3 separate regions of the Homo sapiens genome follow, and regions 1 and 3 are each linked to region 2. The links come from fine-mapping of genetic effects on gene expression. A gene starts in region 2. Each other region holds a variant in brackets. All regions are shown on one strand. Distances are from middle to middle. Region 1 overlaps TSPAN14 (tetraspanin 14). Region 2 holds the start of TSPAN14 (tetraspanin 14). Region 3 overlaps TSPAN14 (tetraspanin 14).

Region 1 (2,752 bases), 47 kb after region 2:
AAAGAAGGTCACTTGAGGCTGGAGGGCACTCAGCTGAACCCTCACTCCCAGAAGATTGGCAGCCAGGGCTCACAGCAGCCAGGGCTTACCTGGCCTGGCCCCATGGACCATCTGCTGCAGAGTTCCAGGGAAGGGTTCCGTGGGGTGAAGCGGGCCAATGACCCAGTTCATTCATGGGACCGTTATGTGAGCTCTCAGGCAGATCACTTCCCCTGTCTAGTCCTCCCTCAATCTCCTGGTCTCTGAAACCAGGTTTGTTGGTACTCAGAGTTCCTGCCCTGGGCCACTGTTCATTGAACCCATGATCTGACATGTGATCCCCAAGTTCCTGTCTTTCCGGTGTGAGTTAACTTTAGTTCTTCCTTTAAAACAGAATGAAAACAACACAAGGCCTTATTCTTTTTTTTTTTTTTTTTTTTTTTTTTTTTTTTGAGACGAAGTTTTGCTCTTGCTGCCCAGGCTGGAGTGCAATGGCGTGATCTTGGCTCACCGCAACCTCCACCTCCCAGGTTCAAGTGATTCTCTTGCCTCAGCCTCCTGAGTAGCTGGGATTATAGGCATGTGCCACCACGCTCGGCTAATTTTTTATTTTTAGTAGAGATGGGGTTTCTCCATGTTGGTGAGGCCGGTCTCAAACTCTTGACCTCAGGTGATCCGCCTCCCAAAGTGCTGGGCCTCCCAGCACTCGGCCTCCCAAAGTGCCGAGATTTCAGGCATGAGCTACCACGCCTGGCCAAGTCCTTATTCTTAGAGCTGAGAGAAAGAGAACTGCACGCAGTGGTGGGGAGCTGGCTTCCCCAGTAAACACAGAGTCAGCCAGGGCTTTCCCTGGGGGCCTTGAGAAGAACAGCAAGCGAGGGAGGGTGTGGTCTGTGGGCCATATGCAGAGCGGTAAGCGGCCCTACAGCGGCCCTGCATGTGGGGAAGGGGCGATTGGAACAGAGGTGAGCAGGAGCAGGCCTACCTTTGCATGGGCACTGTGCCCCTGAGGGTGGGGATATGAACTGCTCTTGAGGTCGAGGGTCTTTTTTGAGAACTTGTGCAGACCAAAATTCCTTTTGTGAAACCAGTCACCTCTTCCTATTGTATCTATTTAGTCACTATTTAGTCACCTAGGAGAACAAAACAACTAAAACAGCACCTCAGCGTGAATTCACAGAAACCTATTAATATAGATGGAACTGACGCT[GT/G]TTTTTTTTTTTTTCTTTTTTTTTGGGAGACCTGGTCTTACTCTGTTACCACCCAGGCTGGAGTGCAGTGGTGCAATCTCACCCTTGACCTCCCAAGTTCAAGCAGTCCTCCCACCTCGGCCTCCCTGGTAGCTGGGAATACAGGCATTTTTTTTTTTACAGCTAATTTTTTTAGAAAACCTTTTTTTTTTTTTTTTTTTTAAGAGATGGGGGTCTTGCTATGTTGCCCAGGCTGGTCTTGAACGCCTGGGCTCAAGCAATCCTCCTGCCTCAGCCTCCCAAATTGCTGTGAGCCACTGTTCTCAGCCTGAGGCTGGTATTAATGTGGGAAACAATACCCTTAGAAGTCAGACTTAGTAGTCAAGGTGAGAGAAGGGGTGAGCTGTGAAGTGCAGTGTGGAGGAGAGAGGGGAGCTCCAGCAGTGGTTTTGTTGAGTGTCCTTAAGGTAGACTTTTCTCACCTGTCCCATGTGGCCCCACAGGATGAGCGGACTGTCATGGAAAGCTGTTAGGCAGGGGCTGGAATGTCTGTTGGGAATGCTGGATGGGGCATCGGCCTCTGGGCTTGTTCTGCTCTGACCATAGGCAAATGCCCCTGTATAGAGCTTGACCCATGCACCTGGGCCAGGCTGAGCTTTTCTTGGCCCACATTTGCTCTGAATGCCTTTGGATTGAATCACACCCAGAAGTGTGCCTGGGGGTAGCTAGAAGGACCCAGGCAAGCACTGTCCTGGTCTTGAATCCTGGGGAGTCACTCATGCCTGCTCTGTGCCTACTGAGGGCCAAGCCCTCCTCGTTGTTGGGCTGCAACTCTGAACAAAACAGGTAACATCTCTGGCCTCAGAAGGGCTTAGCTGGGGAGACACAATAGAGAGACAGCCCCTGTGGTCTGGGATCAGTGCCGCGAAGAAAATCAACAGAGGAGGTCACACATGGAGGATGGGGAGCAGTTCCACTCAGGGTGGTAAAAGGAGGCCTTGAACGCAGTGAGGGAGGAGCCAGGAATGGATATGGAGGAAGAGCATTGCCGGCTGAGGGAACAGTGTCCAGGCTCTGAGGCAGGGGTGATTTTGATGACTTCAAGAAACAAGAATGTCAGGGTGGCCCAGGGAGTGGCGTTGGAGCAGGGAGGTGGGAAGGAGATGCCGTGGGAGATGTGTGTGAAGCCTGGCTGCAGAGGCCCTTGGGGGCCATGGGAGAGACCGTGCATTTTCTTCTAGGTCTGCGTGGGAAGTCACTGCAGAGTTTCGAGGAGGGGAGTTCCCAGCTCTGTATTTTTGAAGGGTCAGTCTTGTTGCTTGGACCAGTGAGGAGCCCCGTGGGATCCAGACTCGAGTGGGTGGAGCCGGGGCAGGTGGGAGCAGAGACACTGGAGGAAAGCTGGTCGAATGCACTGTGTATTTGGAGGCAGAACCAGCAGAGGGTCCTCTGGGTTGAGTGTAGGGCAAAAGAGAAAGAAGGCACCAAGCCTGGGGTCTGGGTTTTCTCTCTTACACTTGCTGGGTGGACGGTGGTGCCACTGAATGAGACGGAGAAGAGTTGGGGGGAGCTCGGTTGGGGTT
Region 2 (2,752 bases):
ACACAGGGCCTGGCATATTATCAGGCACTCAGACAAACACTCACTATCTGCTGAATGAATGGACAGGTTCCCAGGGAGTTTCCAGAGCTGCCTGGGCTGTCACAGACAGGTTGCATCCCTCTTAATTAAACAAACAAATAAAATTAGCCAGGCACCGTGGCTCATGCGTGTAATTCCAGCACTCTGGGAGGCAGAGGCGGAAGGATTGCTTAAGCCCAGGAATTTAAGACCATCACTGGCAACACAGCAAGATCTCGTCTCTACAAAAAAAAAAAAAAAAAAATTAGCTAGGTGTGGTGGCCTGCACCTGTGGTCCCAGCTACTTGGGGAAGCTGAGGCGGGAGGTCGAGGCTGCAGTGAGCCATGGTCATGCCACTGCACTCCAGCCTGGGTGACAAAGCGATACCTTAGCTCAAAAAACAACCCAAACAAACCTGGGAATGGACTGAACAGTCTCCATTTCAAGATTTCCTCCTTCCATTGGAATTAACCTGTTGGTTGCTTGTACTGGCATGTGGCAACCAGTCTTAGCCCAGTTTTAATAGATCCCTGTTTGGTGTTACTCAACAGAGAAGACCACTCGGCCCTCAGCCACCGAATAAGTTTAAGAAACAGAGGTGTGGCATGCTTCATTCTACAGGTAGGGAGGCTGAGGCTGGGGAGCCGCCCCTGGCTATCCCTGGAAACCCCTCTACCCCACAGGAATCGTCCCAGCCATCTCTTTAGCGTAAAGGTGAGGAACAAATCTCAGCCACGATCCAAAGAGGGGCGCCACCCCTGGCTGTCCCTGGAAACCCCCCTACACCACAAGAATCGTCCCAGCCACCTCTTTAGCGTAAAGGTTAGGAAGAAATCTCAGCCACGATCCAAAGAAAGCTTGGTATTTTTAGCACCAAGGCCAGAAGGAGCGTGTCCTTACTCCTTGGTTTACAAAGAAATAAAAACCTTTTCCCCATCCTTCTTTTGATTGAAGACTACCCCCGCCCCCAGGCTCCAAAGCCGGGCAGGAACGCCTCTTATCTCCACCACAGCCATTTTCCTAATCCTTCGCCCGCTCTCCACGGTCATCCCGTGTATCCCTCGAGACGCCGCCTCCCACAGCTCGTGCTTCTCCCAGGTTCGGCTCCGACAAGGCCAGAGCGGCGTCTGCGCAGCGCAACGGCTCAGAGCGCTCCCGGCGGCTACAAGTGCCCGGCCCCGGGCCAGGCCCGGCCTGCGCCGCGCACCCACTGGGAGGGCGCGGACCGGGGCCGCCCCAAGCCTCCGGCACCGCCCAGAGCGGGACAAAGGGGCGGGCCGGCGACCCGGCCTCGCGGTCCCCGGTGCCGCGCGGGCCGGGAGGCGGGGTGCGGTGGGGGAGGGGCGAGGCGGCTGGGGGAGGGGCGGGGCCAGGGCGGGCCCAGGCGCCCGGGGCCGCACCGGGCGGCGCAGGGAAGCGGCGCCCCTTCCTCGGCAGACGGCAGGCGCCGCGCCTCCGGCCCCGCCCCTCCGCGCCCCTCCGCGCCCCGCCCCCGCCGCTCGGACGGCCCGAGTCGCGCCCTCCCGCCCCGCGCCGCGGAACTTGCTCTAACTTCCTCGGCCGAGCCGGGCCGCGCCGCCGCTGCCGCCGCCGCGCGCGGGTGAGTAGAGCGCGGAGACCTGGCTGGGGCGTCGGGCCCTGCCCCTTTCTTTGTCTGAGGCCGACTTCCCCGAGCGTTCTCCGGGGGCGAGGGCTGCTCCTTAGGTCCCTGTTTGGCCCCTCAGCCTCCCTCCCCGCCTGCCCAGGAGCGGCCCCGCGGGCGGCGCTGGCTTTGTCTGCCAGGATTGCTCGCTAGAGGTTGGAGGCCTCCGCCGGGACCCCGCTGAGCCGAACTCCGGCGCCGCGCGGACGAGAGCCGCGGCGGGCCCGGGGCCGGCACTCCTGGTTCGGTAGCCCTCGCCCCATCAGCGCGCCCCGGCGAGTGCGCGCCCGTGCCGGGCGGGGTGAGGGCGACGGGAGCCTGGACGGCCGCTGCTGCTCGGGGCTCTGCTTCTCGTCCCCAGCAGCGAGCTCGGGGATGGGCCACCCTTTCGGCTCAGTCACCCACCCTCGGCTCCCAGGAGATCGGGTCCGGGGTGGGGGTGGGCGTAGGCCGGGGCGGGCCGCCCCTTCCTCCTGCCCCGCCGTGGTTGTGCTCAGTCTCCCACGCCGCCGTGGGTCCCACTCTGCCCGGCTTGGGTTTGGGACGGCCGGAGTTTGAGTAGGCGGTGACCCAGCTTCTCCGCGTTAGTCGTGTGGGGTTGTGTTTGGGAGCAAAGCCTGACCCCTGACCTAGCCGGAGTTCTGGTAGAGTGAGGTTTGTGGCTGCGGACTGTGCTTGTCCCGGGCCGCTGCTGCTTCTCCTCCACCCCCAGGGGTGGGGTGCGGGTGGGTAGGAAGTGCCTGTGTGAGGGTGTGTGGAGGGACTTTGGCCCTGGGACCGCAGGAGCACTTGTCTTGGGGACTTAAAGTTGATCTCCGGCGAGAAACAGTCCGTGCTAGGGGGAGTCGGGGGAAGTCGTGGGCCCGGGTACTGGCCTGGGGCTGGGCGCAGAGCGGTGGTGAGTGCGGCGGTGTCACACACTCGTTGGCTGTGCTGGCGCTGCTATCCGGGAGGTCAGGCGGTGCTGGGCGGCTGTGCAGAGCATTGTATTGGAGCCTCTGCAGGTGTGCTCTTGGCAGTGGTCTGCTCTCCAGGGGATCTTCCTCCCTTCCGAGAGGGAGTTGCTCTTGGGCTAGTGAGAGAGTGGCCTG
Region 3 (2,752 bases), 30 kb after region 2:
TTTAAAAAAGGGCAGGAGGGAGGAATATTAAAGGTGAGTACAACACTGAAGCCAAGGAGCCCTGTTTATGATGACTGCCAGCCTTATATATTGTAGCAAGCATTCTCCTTCCCAGCAGGGGCACCTCCAACCAGCAGCGGCCCCATTTTCATTTATAATACAAAGGTGGTAATGGTAAGTGTGATGCTGGAAACCTTTTTGGAAAATCACTTGTAAGTCCACCACCACCCCATGCAGCCATTTTCATGCTCTTAACATTCCACTTTGGCCTTTAAGCACATGCTTACAAATTGTCTCATAATTGCAAACCATGAGGTTCATGTTTCACTTAATGTGTATTCTTTTTCTGGAGGCAAATTCTTAGTCATTAGTTTATTGATTAAGGGTGTGACCTTTTTTTGGGTGGTAAATGTAACCATATTGCTACCAAATGGTAGTAACCGTTTCATCTGCTGCCAACAAGGAATAAATGTGTTTGCCACAATAGTGGTGGCAATTTTGTTAAATTAAAAAGTGTAAAGTAGGCCGGGTATGGTGGCTTATGCCTATAATCCCAGCACTTTGGGAGGCTGAGATGGGCAGATCACCCAAGGTCAGTAGTTCGAGATCAGCCTGGCCAACATGGTGAAACTCCTGTCTCTACTAAAAATACAAAAATTAGTTGGACATGGTGTCGGTCGCCTGTAATCTCAGCTACTCAGTAGGCTGAGGCAGGATAATCACTTGAACCCGGGAGGCGGAGGTTGCAGTGAGCCAAGATTGCACCATTGCACTCCAGCCTGGGCAACAAGAGCAAAACTCTTGTCTCAAAAAAAAAAAAAAAAAAAAAAAAAAAAAAAAAAAAAAAAGTGTAAAATAGGCCAGGCACGGTGACTCACGCCTGTAATCTCAGCACTTTGGAAGGCCAAGGTGGGCGGATTGCTTTGAGCTCAGGAGTTCAAAACCAGCCTGGGCAACATGATGAAACCCCGTTTGTACAAAAAATACAAAAATTAGCCAGGCCTGGTGGCATGCACCTGTGGTCCCAGCTACTCCAGAGGCTGAGGCTAGAGAATCACTTGAACCAGGGAGGCGGAGGTTGCAGTGAGCTGAGTGCGCCACTGCACTCCAGCTTGGGCAACAGAGCAGGACTTGTTTAAAAAAAAAAAAAGTGTAAAATAGTATATCTGGGTTGTCTTTAAGTTTTATTTCTAGTGACATTGAAAATTTTTCCTTTTTTTT[A/T]AATTTTTTTATTTTTTAAAGACCGGGTCTTGCTCTGTCACCCAGACTGGAGTGCAGTGGTGTCATCACTGTTCATCACAGCCTGGACCTCCCAGGCTCAAGCGATTATCCCGCCTCAGCCTCCCACGTAGCTGGGACTTCAGTCACCACACCCAGCTAATTTTTGTACTTTTTGTAGAGATGGTGTTTGGCCTTGTTGCACAGGCTTATTTTTCCATTTGTTACGTTATTCTTCCCTTTGTTATTCTTTCCTTTGTGTATAATGTTCATATCCTTTGTTCATTTGTGTACAACGGGGGTCTTTTTGAAGTATGGGTCTCTATAGGTTGCAGATATTTACTGTGTCATAATTTTTTCAGCTGCAGATAACATTTGTGTTTCCTTTTTTATTTTAATGTTACTTTTATTCATGGGGATTTTTTAGATTTGTTATCTGTTCAGGCTTGGTAGTCTTGTGCTTTGAATTGTTTTTTCCTGTTGCCTCAAAAGTTGAAGGTGGGTAAAATGGACTTGAAAACCCTGTTCTCTGGGTGTGGTGTGTGCATGTATGTGCATATGCCCTTTAAATCTGTAAGTTGTTATTTGCTTATTATTTAACTCCCCTCAAGTTGCTAACCAGTTATCTCACTACTGTTAAACAATTCTCCCTTTGCCCTGTTTTGAGAAGTTGGTATTTTGATAAACATGTGCCTCCTTCCTGCCACACTGATGCTTTATTTTCTATCACATTCTTAGAGTTGAGACAGTTTGAGATCCTAATTTTTTTTCTAGGCACACAAAATAGCTTTTGGAGATTCTTCTCTGCTGGAATGGTACCTAACATTTGTGAAAAGTTTACCCATCTCTACTTTTAGGAAGGTTCTTAGTCATGCGTGCGTGTGTGTGTGTAAGATAAAGAGTGTTGGTGTTCTTTGTGGATGCATCTGCTCATAGAGGGCTAACTTCTGCCTTCCTTCAGTATGATGTGGTTTAGCAAATGAGGTGAGATGCTAGGGACCATGGTCATTTTGGGAATCATTTTGGGTCAGATCTGGGTTCTAGTTTCAGCACTACTGCCTTTATCAGCCTTCCTGCATTTTTGTGTAAATGCCCTAGTAGCTCCGTTGGTGGCTCAGGAGCGCTCAGTCCTTTTTTCCTCCCTTGGGGTTCTGAAGCCTCCGAGCCATACCTGTTGTGCAGCTCCATCATTACCCCTCCACAGTCAGAAGGCCACCTTACACTGTGTAGGAGGATGTGGCTTAGGCTGGAGTCCTAATGAGTCTCCCATTTACCTTCTTCAGCTTAAACTATGTGGAGACCAGGATCTGCCAGCCCCACAGAGGGTCAGGACCTGCTTTCCAACCCGCTGGCCAACACAGCAGAGAGGGACAGATTGAGAGGTGCCTTCCCTCCCTGTCCCGAGGTTAGGTGGGTGGCAGGGGTGGGAAAGCGGGGAGCGGAGAAGGAAAACTGAAATGTTTCTTTTCAACAGTTTATTGCAATAGTTTCCTCTTCTGTGGGTTGAGGATGGGGGAAAAAGTGTCACTGGGAC

The links. PIP is the estimated chance that this variant, and not a neighbour inherited with it, causes the effect.
Region 1: its variant is fine-mapped to the expression of TSPAN14 in whole blood (INTERVAL, PIP above 0.99).
Region 3: its variant is fine-mapped to the expression of TSPAN14 in whole blood (INTERVAL, PIP above 0.99).

Annotation. Positions count from the first base shown.
Region 1 is chr10:80,499,916-80,502,667 of GRCh38, forward strand. The region is part of intron 2 of TSPAN14 (tetraspanin 14); the gene reads left to right. Among named protein-coding and RNA genes, the nearest start is that of TSPAN14-AS1, 35 kb to the right of the region's middle. RefSeq lists a silencer at 1-212. The variant GT/G (reference allele first, on the strand shown) is at 1,190.
Region 2 is chr10:80,452,753-80,455,504 of GRCh38, forward strand. It overlaps TSPAN14 (tetraspanin 14), which reads left to right and starts at 1,558. Exons shown (of 9, transcript NM_030927.4): 1 at 1,558-1,619. RefSeq lists enhancers at 914-1,123, 1,867-2,384, 2,334-2,593, 2,624-2,673 and a silencer at 1,154-2,203.
Region 3 is chr10:80,483,104-80,485,855 of GRCh38, forward strand. All of the region lies in intron 1 of TSPAN14 (tetraspanin 14), which reads left to right. Among named protein-coding and RNA genes, the nearest start is that of TSPAN14, 30 kb to the left of the region's middle. The variant A/T (reference allele first, on the strand shown) is at 1,222.